2 separate regions of the Homo sapiens genome follow, and region 2 is linked to region 1. The links come from fine-mapping of genetic effects on gene expression. A gene starts in region 1. The other region holds a variant in brackets. All regions are shown on one strand. Distances are from middle to middle.

What was found. PIP is the estimated chance that this variant, and not a neighbour inherited with it, causes the effect. A credible set is the group of variants that fine-mapping cannot tell apart.
Region 2: its variant is the best candidate, but not a certain one, in a credible set for the expression of TTC39A in lung (TOPMed, PIP 0.86).

The regions. Positions count from the first base shown.
Region 1 is chr1:51,327,912-51,333,289 of GRCh38, reverse strand. TTC39A (tetratricopeptide repeat domain 39A) reads left to right here and starts at 2,728. Exons shown (of 18, transcript NM_001297663.2): 1 at 2,728-2,853. The coding sequence starts at 2,813. TTC39A-AS1 (TTC39A antisense RNA 1) reads right to left here and starts at 3,636. Exons shown (of 3, transcript NR_123731.1): 1 at 3,481-3,636; 2 at 3,077-3,160; 3 at 2,009-2,418. RefSeq lists an enhancer at 1,819-1,868 and a silencer at 2,686-2,755.
Region 2 is chr1:51,272,394-51,277,771 of GRCh38, reverse strand. It overlaps RNF11 (ring finger protein 11), which reads right to left. Exons shown (of 3, transcript NM_014372.5): 3 at 4,325-5,378. Among named protein-coding and RNA genes, the nearest start is that of RNF11, 39 kb to the right of the region's middle. The variant C/T (reference allele first, on the strand shown) is at 3,422.

The DNA of each region.
Region 1 (5,378 bases):
ATTCATTTGTGTTTCATATACAACTTATACACATAGCCTAATGGTCATTTTTTTTTTTTTTTTTTTTTTGGTGGGGGCGATGGAGTTTTGCTCTTGTTAACCCAGGCTGGAGTGCAATGATGTGATCTCAGCTCACTGCAACCTTCGCCTTCCGGGTTCAAGCGATTCTCCTGCCTCAGCCTCCCGAGTAGCTGAGATTACAGGCGTGCGCCACCATGCCTATCTAATTTTGTATTTTTAGTAGAGATGGGGTTTCTCCATGTTGGTCAGGCTGGTCTCGAACTCTTGACCTCAGGTGATCTGCCTGTCTCAGCCTCCCAAAGTGCTGGGATTACAGGCATGAGCCACCATGCCCAGCCACCTAAAGGTAATTTTATACACAATATTTTTAATAATTTTGTGCATGAAACAAAGTTTGTGTACACTGAACCATCAGAAAGAAGTGTCACTCTCTCAGCCATCCATGTGGACAATCTGTGATTATTTGGCATCATCATCATTTTTGACTCTGAATTTATGTGCTCCCAATAAGCATTTTTTTACCCTTATTCACACATAAGTACTTAACAATAAAAATATAACATACCATTAATGCAGTGAAAAAATAGTGTTCAGGGTAACTCAGCAGCACGTGAGCATCAGTAGAATGCCTGTGTCCGCTGTAACAACAGCACAGCAAACATGGCAGGCCTGCAGTCTCCAACTACAGTGCTCAAAAAGCTTCAAGTTTCAGGCCGGGCGCGGTGGCTTACGCCTGTAATCCCACTGTGGGAGGCCAAGGTAGGCGGATCACTTGAGGTCCAGAGTTTGAGACCAGCCTGGCCAACATGGCAAAACCCTGTCTCTACTAAAAATACAAAAATCAGCTGGGCATGGTGGCACATGCCTGTAATCTCAGCTACTCGGGAGGCTGTGGGATGAGAATCACTTGAACCCAGGAGACGGAGGTTGTGGTGAGCCAAGATCACGAGATTGTGCCACTGCACTCCAGCCTGGGTAACAGAGTGAGACTTTGTCTCAAAAAAAAGAGAAAATAAAAAAAGCTTCAAATTTTGGAGCATTCTGGATTTCGGATTTTCAAATTAGGAATGCTCAACCTGTATTGGTAAATTTGTATTCTTTTTTTGAACAGCGGCCTCCCCATTGTAAGCTTCTGGATCCACCCCCGGTTACATGAATGACTAACAAGTGACAAGGGAGGAAGGTGTGTTCCACACAGAGGGAACAGCATGTTTAAATGCCTAGAGATTTGAAAGTGCATGACATGTGATAGGGGCCCCAGCCTCATCATCCTCTTTACATGTATTGCTTGTGGTCTCACCAGCCTCACCCTTTCCCACTTCCATGCCTTCATCCATGCTGCTCCCCGATCTGGTACACCCTCTCCATGACTTCAGTTTGTTTAAATAATATAAACTTCAAGGCTCAGTTCTGTCACCACCTCTTCCAGGAAGCTCCCCAGTCTCTCCCCTTGTCTGGATTCTTTATAGTTGCTGGTGGATGTCATCATAGCTTACTTCTAGTAGTTAATTATCTTTTTCGTGCCTGTATATGAGACTCCTAGAGATGGGATGATTCTTGCAAGTGAGCATCTGCCCCTGCTCACAAATGGGCAGGATGGGACTTCACTGCCTTTCCAGGCAGCCTGCTTAGATTTTAAGCAGCTACCACCAAGCCCAAACTGCCTGGCTCCCCTGGGATCTGGTACAAGTCCTGTTCCCACCGTGGTTGCTTCTGCAGGCTGTCCCCTTCTGCTTCCTCTTCTGACGTCCTGGAGGTCATAGTTGCTCCAGGGGAGCTACAGTCCTTCCTTACTTCTGTCCCCTCCTTTGTGAAGGGACAGCTCTAATGGCAGCCACATGCTCTGATGAGTCATGGTTAAGAGCAGCATCTGGGGCCAGGAGATGGTGACTGGTTAACTCTTCATGGGCCAGTGGCTTTCTGTGCCAGAAGATCAGGTCAGGTGGAGACACCGCCTCAGGGCTCGGTGCACAGTGGACATTTGGGGAGCGTTGTGGGTGACCCCCACACAGGCACTGGGAATGCAGGGGAGAGGGGGCCAAGGGGGAAAGGGGCCAGAGTGTTGGCTTTGGATTCAGGAGGGATGGATTCCAGTCCTAGCTTGCCACTTATTAGGTGAGTGACCATGCGTGAATCAAATGAACCCCATGCCTCAGTTTCCCCATCTGTAAAATAGCAATTATGGGGATCATTTGAGAAGGCAGTGTGAACTGCCAGCTAGCAGTGAGTGCTAAACCGTGTTTTCCCCGCCTTCTGGTCTCCTGCAGTCACTCAGTGGGCGAGATGGTGGGATTAAAATCCAGGCCTGACTCTGGGGGCTGTCTTTGTCTGCACGAATGCCCCCATTAATGCGGGAGGATGGTGACGGCTCAGGTGGGGGCCGCTTCGGGGCGGAAGCTGTGGGGAGGAGAAGTGACAGTAAAGTGGACCTCAGGTCCCGGAGAAGAACTTCTAGCGCCAAATAGGTGGGGACGTGTGAGGAGGGAGCGAGCTCCCGGCCCGGGCGGTGTCTGCGCAGAGGGCGCCGGGCTCTCACCTGTCGGAGCGGGGGTGGGGGCCGCCCAGAACCCCCGGCGGTGCGGGAGCGCGGGTCGCCGCGGGCGGCCATGGCCCTACGGTGCGGGTGGGGAGACCGAGGCTCGGCCCGGCCCCGCCGCCTTCCCCGCCCCCGGCGCGCCCCTCCCCGGCCGCCGCGTCCGCGACCGCACAGCGCCCGGCTCGGGGTTGCGGCGGCAGCACCTGGGCCGCGATTGGCGTCCGGCTGGGGCAGCGCCGCCCGCGCCCCTCGGCGATGACCTCGGCTGGCGGCGCCCCAGGAGCCCTGCCCGCGGGGTAAGTGCGCGGCTGGGAGGCCCGGGGGCGCGGGCGGCGCGGGCTGGGGCCCGGGCAGGTGGCGGGCGCCGCGCCAGGCCTCCCCCCGCGCACCGGCCTGGGGCCGCACTGCGGCTTCCAGCCCCCACCCCGCCCGGCCCCTGGCAGCCGCCGCCGCTGCCAGGAGTGGGGGCAGGGGGCTGTGAGGAGGCGGAGGCGCGGGGACCCCGGGTCGGTCACTCACCTTCTGGGTCCCAACTTTCTCACGGAGCTGTAGTCACAGACACGTTCAGAGCAGCCTTCCCCACCTGCCTCGTGGCGTTCACTCCTGTGGGGTGGGCCCTGTTACTCTCATCCCCATTACAGATGAGGAAACTGAGACACAGCACTTAAGTGACTTGTCATCGGTCACCCAGGAGGTAAGAGTTGCGGGTGGGATTTGAACTCAGTTCTGTCTGTTGTCAGATCCCCCCACCCCATCATCTTCAGGGACATTAGGGGAACTTAAACAGCTAAGGTATGGGCCAGCCGGGCCCATTGGGTGCAGCAGGAACCTGGGTAGTAAAAAGTGGGTGTTGTCACCTTCAACGTGGCTCTCCTGCCCAACCCTACCCACATCCCACTGAGAAACCCCTATAGGACCCCTACCTAGATCACCCCCCGTAGCAGTGACAGCCGCTACTGCCGGGAGACCTTCAGCAACTCTCTGCTTTTCCTGGGCCCCAGTGGGCAGGGCAGGGGGCAGCTGCTAGGAGCCCTGACTGCTGGGAGGTTGCTGGGCAGAGAGCCGGCCCAGGTGAGCTGGGAGGAGGGCTCACCCTGCCTGGAGCCTCACCACCAGTGACAATATTTGCTAAGGGCCCGAGGCTTGACACATGAACAGGGAGGTGACGAGGCTGGTGCCAGCTGGCAGCTGGAAGTCTCCACAGGGCTTGCGTGTGTGTGGCTCTATCAGGGCTTGGAAGCTGGGTTGCTGGGGGACACCCTGGCCTGGGAGAGGGTTGCCTGGTGAGTTTCAGCTTCATCATTTTTGTTGTGTGACTTTGGCCAAGTCCTTAACCCTTCCTAGACTTCTGGTCCCTCCTTTGGAAAACACAGAAGTGGGGCTGGCTGTTCCTTTCCTGTTCTGGGCTCAAGTATTTGTAAAGCTGGAGGTTGGGTAGGTTCCTTCTGTGCAGCCCTGACTGAGCACCACCACCCTGCTGGGTCCAGAAAAGTGGTTTCCAGGAGAGAAGGCGGGCATGGAGCAAGGTATCTATCAAAGAAGTCTAGACTCCCTGGCTGAAAACCACATTCATCCCACTTCCTTATATGCTTACATCCCTGCCTAAGTGCCCTCTACAACCCCGGGCACCTCTGGCCCTGCTGCAGGCCTCAGGACAGCAAGCTTGCTCTTCTCACGCTGGTGGGTCTTCCTTATGCAGAACCGTACCTGCCTCTCTGCATGCCTGCCCACTCTTCTTTGAAGCCACCTGTCCATCTGTCCCCAACCCTGGCTAGTGTCATCCTGGTGGGGTCTGAGCAGAGGAGGGCCGCACGCAGCAGGACCATTCTCACCTTCACTACAGAGACACTCACTCAACAGACACTCAGCAAGGCCTGCTCTGGGCCCAGATGGTCATTGGTGAACAAATCAAGCCTTAAATCTCTACCTTTTTAAAAATTATGAAATATTTTAAGCCTTCAGAAAAATATAGCAAATAGTAAAATGAACTCACAAACCCTTGCCACCCAACTTTGTCAGATATTAACATTGTGCCCCATTTATTTTATATTCTTTTTAAGAAATAAACCATAGTAGAGACCCTTGAAAGTCTTGTGGAAACCTCTTCCCTCCTTCCCTCTCCAGAATTACTTGCCATCCTGAATTTAGGTTTTATCATTTCTCTGTTTTTATTCTTTTACTCAGTGTGTGTAAGTCTTAAAAATATGTAGTTTGTTCTTCAAAGTTTTCTGTGAATGGAGTCCTATAGCATGTGTCATGCTGCAGCTCGCGTTTTCACACTCAACTTCAGGTCTCAGATTTAGCCTTGATCCTGTAGCTCTTGTCCCACTTGCCCTGATGTGTGATATACCACCCTATGTAGACACCTCCATTTGTTTATCCTTCTTGATGGATGTCGAAGTGTTCCCAGTGTCTTGCTATTCAGACAGTGAATATTCTTGTATGATGGTGTTTGCACATGTGTTTCACGAGGGTGCCCCCTTAGTAGTGGAATTGCTGGGTTGTTGGATATGTGCACTCGATCTTAAATAAAATAAAATAAAATAAAATAGAGACAGGATCTCACTTTGTTGCCCAGACTGGTCTCAAACTACTGGGTTCAAGCGATCCTCCTTCCTTGGCCTCCTGAAGTGCTGGGATTACAGGAGTAAGCCACTGCGCCTGGCCCACTCAATCTTTTAAAGTTATTTAGTTTCATTATAAAGTCAGTGCTACTTGATCAAGAAATGATGGTAAAGCCGCACGCAGTTGCTCACGCCTATAATCCCAGCACTTTGGGAGGCCCAGGCAGGTGGATGACTTGAGATCAGGAGTTTGAGAT
Region 2 (5,378 bases), 56 kb after region 1:
CATCTGAAAATGCCTTACTAGAACAGCACCTGTCTCACAACCAGAAATAAGAATGCCGGCCGGGCGCGGTTGCTCACGCCTGTAATCCCAGCACTTTGGGAGGCCGAGGCAGGCGGATCACCTGGAGGTCAGGAGTTCGAGACCAGCCTCAACATGGAGAAACCCCGTCTCTACTAAAATAGAAAATTAGCCAGGCATGGTGGTGCATGCCTGTAATCCCAGCTACTCGGGAGGCTGAGGCAGGAGAATTGCTTGAACCTGGGAGGCGGAGGTTGCGGTGAGTCGAGATCATGCCATTGCACTCCAGCCTGGGCAACAAGAGCTAAACTCTGTCTCAAAAAAAAAAAAAAAAAAAAAGAATGCCTATGAATTATTCTTCCTCGTGTCAGGGTAACACTACAGATAGTGATGAGTGTAAGCAAGCAGCACGAAGACCAAACCTCTTCTCTTCCCACACTTTGCACACTGTGAAGTTGTAGCTGTTAACTTTTATAATGTGTTTACCCAGTTCAGCTAAGCTTTTGCATAGAGGATCATCATTCTGCATTGTTTCAAAGCTGAAGGCCTGGCTCTAATTCTGGGGTTGGCAGAATGTAGCCTATTCCTGCACCTCATTTGGATAATGCTGGAAGCCAATCTCAGTGTCTTTCTGATAGTATAGTAGTCCAGGCTTCTCAATTCACACACAATGCTTAAAACTTGCTTTTGGGTACTAACTGACCAGATTAGCTACTGTGGTGGCCTCCAGTGAGAAGTTGAACTTTTTTTGCATAGCCAACCAAATCTTCTCACAGGCATTCAGAGTACACACTGCCATGACAAGACACTTAGGGAGACCCCTTAGTATCTTCCTCAACAACTTCTTTTTCTCAGTGCTAAGAGATGTGGAGCCCACAAGCACAAATATTAGAGGAAGGGTTCAAAGCAAATAGGCGCTGCTCCTTTCATCACCATCAGTTTTAGATGCCTAAAACATGTGCCTATTGCTAACACTCCTTCATTCAAAGAGAAAAACAAACTTTCTATGGGAAGCACCTGAAGATGACTAAATGTGCCAGTGAACAGTAATTTTTCTCAAGAAACAGAAATGTAATGAAAAGGTAATCTCGACCATACTTTTATTAAAAAACTGTATGTGAAGAAACAATAAATGGCTTTAGTCAGTTAATAACATTAATCAGATGCATCCAGCTACTGTCCTAAGGCAGTGCCAGGCTGGGAGCAGTGACTCAGGCCTATAATCCCAGCACGTTGGGAGGCTGAGGCAGGAGAAGCTCTTGAGGCCAGGAGTTTCAGGCCAGCCTGGGCAACATAGTGAGACTCAGTCTCTACAAAAAAACAAAACATTAGCTGGACGTGGTTGAGCGCACCTGCAGTCAATCCCAGCTACTCGAGAGGCTGATGTGGGAAAAATCACTTGAGCGCAGGAGTCTGAACTTACGGTGAGCCATGATCAAACCACTGCACTACAGCTTGGGGGACACAGTGAGACCCTGTCTCCAAAACAAAAGCTTGTGCCTAAGTGCTCAGTGTGATAAAGCAAACAATGTGGACAATTAAAATGTGCAAATAAATCTCAAACCCTTTTTATAATTCACTGGTGCCTCTGATGGAAGAAGCTTGTAAAATCAGGAAATAGGTTGTAAAGGGACTTACTTATCTGGATGCTCTGTATCTATGCTAAAGAGCAAGGAAATAGCAAAAGGACAAATGAAGAGCAGAAAGTCTAGATAATTGTGCCTGGACAATCAATCTCTGAATAACCAACAAGTGCCCAATACTGCTTCTAATTTCTCAGGAAACAAAAAAAGAACCAAACCTGTACTTCACAAGTTTGGGAAGGGATCATCTACCAATGGTTCCAAAACCTACTAGTGCATCAGAATCACTTGGAGAACCTGTTACAAATGATAGATGGCCAGGTATAGTGACCCATACCTGTAACCCCAGTACTTTGGGAGGCTGAGGTGGGAGGATCATTGGAGCCCAGGAGTTCGAGACCAGCCTGGGCAACATGCCAAAAACTCATCTCTACAAAAAAATACAAAAATTAGCCAGGTGTGGTAGCATGTACCTGTAGTCTCAGCTCCTTGGGAAGGTCGCTTGAGCCTGGGAGGTGGAAGCAGTTGTGCCACTGCCCTCCAGCCTGGGAGATAGAGTGAGACTCTGTCTCAAAAAGTTCTGTTTCTCCTCTCTCACTCTGATATGATAGGGGTCTCCATTACTAATAAACATCCAGAGCCCTAGGTAATTGTGCTCTGGTTGTCCTGGCCTCAGAGAACTACTGATCTACCAACACTCCCATGGTGAGGAAAATGTGGCTTAAAGAGACAAAATGAGTGAGTCGAGTGAGCCATGATCACACCACTGCACTACAGCCTGGGAGATAGAGAAAGTCCGTCTCAAAAAAAAAAGTACAGAAGGACGGGTCAAATCGTCTTCTATCTCTTCCCGCCCAGTAAAAGAGCAGTTGATATTTAAAAGAAAAAATATTTTAAAAATAGAAATATAATAAAAATTAAAAAACATAGAAGTGTTTATTTAAATTCAGATAGGTAAATTTAACATTACTTGAAGAGATATTAACCTAAAATCCAACTTTTCTTGTGTCCACAAATTTTAAAATTAAGGCTTAAAAAATTAGGTGAGGTTATTACACTAAGATGCATTTACACGCAAGTTTCATCAGTTGACTCCATGACTGCTACCCACTGCTTTTGTAAGCACAGATAGCCACCAACTATTTTTGTGACTTATGCTGAAGAAACATACTTTCTCTCGTTTACCACTTCTCCAGTCTCAAGACCTTAGGTAGTTCTCCTTTTGACTACAGTATCACCCACTCTATCCATGGGGTATACTCTCCAAGAACCCCACTGCATATCTCAAACTGTGGATAGTACAACATACGTACCTACACATACATACCTATGCTAAAGTTTAATTTGTAAATCAGGCACAGTAAGAGATTAGGAACAACACTGGTAAAACAGTAAGTTTTTGTCTTTTTCTTTTTTTTTTTTTGAGGCAGAGGAGTCTCACTCTGTTATCCAGGCTGGAGTGCGGTGGTGCGATCTCGGCTCACTGCAACCTCCGCCTTGCAGGTTCAAGTGACTCTCCTGCCTCAGGCTCCCAAGTAGTTGGGATTACAAGTGTGCACCACCATGCCTGGCTAATTTTGTATTTTTAGTAGAGACGGGGTTCACCATGTTGGCCAGGCTGGTCTCAAACTCCTGACCTCAAGTGATCCAACTGCCTTGGCCTCCCGAAGTGCTGGGATTACAGGTGTGAGCCACCAGGCCCGGCCAAGATTAAGTGTTTTTTAAAAACTGTATTTACAAAAGTTGTTATAGATTGTAATAAAAGTCACGTGAGGCCAGGCGCAGTGGCCCACGCCTATAATCCCAGCACTTTGGGAGGC[C/T]GAGACAGGTGGATCACGTGAGGTCAGGAGTTCAAGACCAGCCTGACCAACACGGAGAAACCCCGTCTCTACTAAAAATACAAAATTAGCCGGGCATGGTGGCACACGCCTGTAATCCCAGCTACTCGGGAGGCTGAGGCGGGATAATTGCTTGAACCCAGGAGACAGAGGTTGCAGTGAGCCGAGATTGCGCCATTGCACTCCAGCCTGGGCAACAAGAGCGAAACTCCATCTCAAAAAAAAAAAAATTATGTAACTGTGGTATCTCACTCTCAAAATACCTTTTTGCACCATAGTGTGTGGGTATGTGAAATGGCAGAAACCGTGGATAAGGGGGATTACTGTACTTTATTAAGTGTTGCTCCTTTTTAAAAATGAATGCTTCTTTATGAAGATTTGTATGCAGGGGATCTGTTATCTCAATGCTTACTATTGCATGAAATCATACTGTTTTATATCACATGATAAACACCAATAGCAGGGGGCGAGTCTTCTAGTACCGACTGAGGAGATTCCCTATCAAGAAACTCACAGAATTTTTTAAGTTTGTGTTAGGTAAACTACAAATATCTGAAAGTATTTCAACTTGTTAGGTTTTACACTCAAAAGGATAAGATTCTTTTGTTTCTTCCTGGTTAGGCTTTTTAGAAATTTCAAATCCCACAGCCAAGCTTGGACATATCTTGCCCATATCTAAATCAAGAGATTATAGCTATTGTTTGGTTTTAGAAACTTTGGTGCTATCAAGCCTAAGTATATGATTAAATGATATTAAATGCCAAACAATAAAAAATACTTCCCACAGGTATATATAGAGAGAGAGATTTTAAAATAATCATACACAACTTTTTAAAAGATTATATGGGGAATACTTACTTATGTAATCAACTCTAACTTTAGCCCTTCACAGCTGTATTATAACTTTATTTAACAACTTAGTAAAAGTCAAAATTGATGGTTCTTAACATTGTATGTTGAGAATATAAAGTGCCTAAAAAAGACACATTCTGCCCAATGCTAGTTCTTTCAATATTACCACCAAACTTCTGTGAAAGACTTGTAATGAAAAGAAAGACTAACTGCAACATGGAAGATGATTTTTAAAAAAGTTCATTTGCCAATTTTAACAATCTAGAAAAAAAGAAAAGTCTGACTATAATACTTGATGACACAGACATTATGTTTAAGTAGAAAACACAAGAATAAAAAAAGCAATTATCAGAAAATATTGCACAACTTCAGTTGTTTCCTCCAAATTTGCTTTATGTACTTGGGTGGATATAAATTAATAAACAGAAATTTAAGCAAGATACATGTAACAATTTAACAGAACCTGATAATCTAATTTCTTTCAATTTTTCTCAAATTCATCTTTAAGTCTTTCCATCATGGGGCTCATAAGGAAATTTAAGCAACATATGGATACTACAGTTGAATGTCAAATCTTTACAAAGTACTTATGACATACTACATTCCTCTATAATGCAATTATGAATAACCTTCATGACACTGTGTTTTGTATGTAGAAAACTGTTAGAGTTCAATATTCAACTCAATATAAAATAATAATAAGAAACACTTCTGATGTTAGGTTGAGACCACTTTTCCTTTTGCTAATGAATGATTTTTTTAGCTGTAATATCACTGAGGTGAACCAATAAGTCACCTTTGAGTACATATGAAAAAATAAACACATGCTAAATGGATAAAACATTACTACTACATCTTTACTAGACCATCTCTACCTCTAACACTTCAGAAGCTTAGAGATTTAAAGTATTCTTACATTAACTGCAAGAAACAAAGGAGAAATTCCTTCTTTTTTGAGATCACAACTATGAAGTCATATGGTTATACAAATTCTGCGTTTGTGTGCAAAACATAAAATACAATTATCTTTATTCTCCCTGCTTAGTTTTGTCAGTCAGCTAGCAGGATGTAATAGATACCTTTCCAA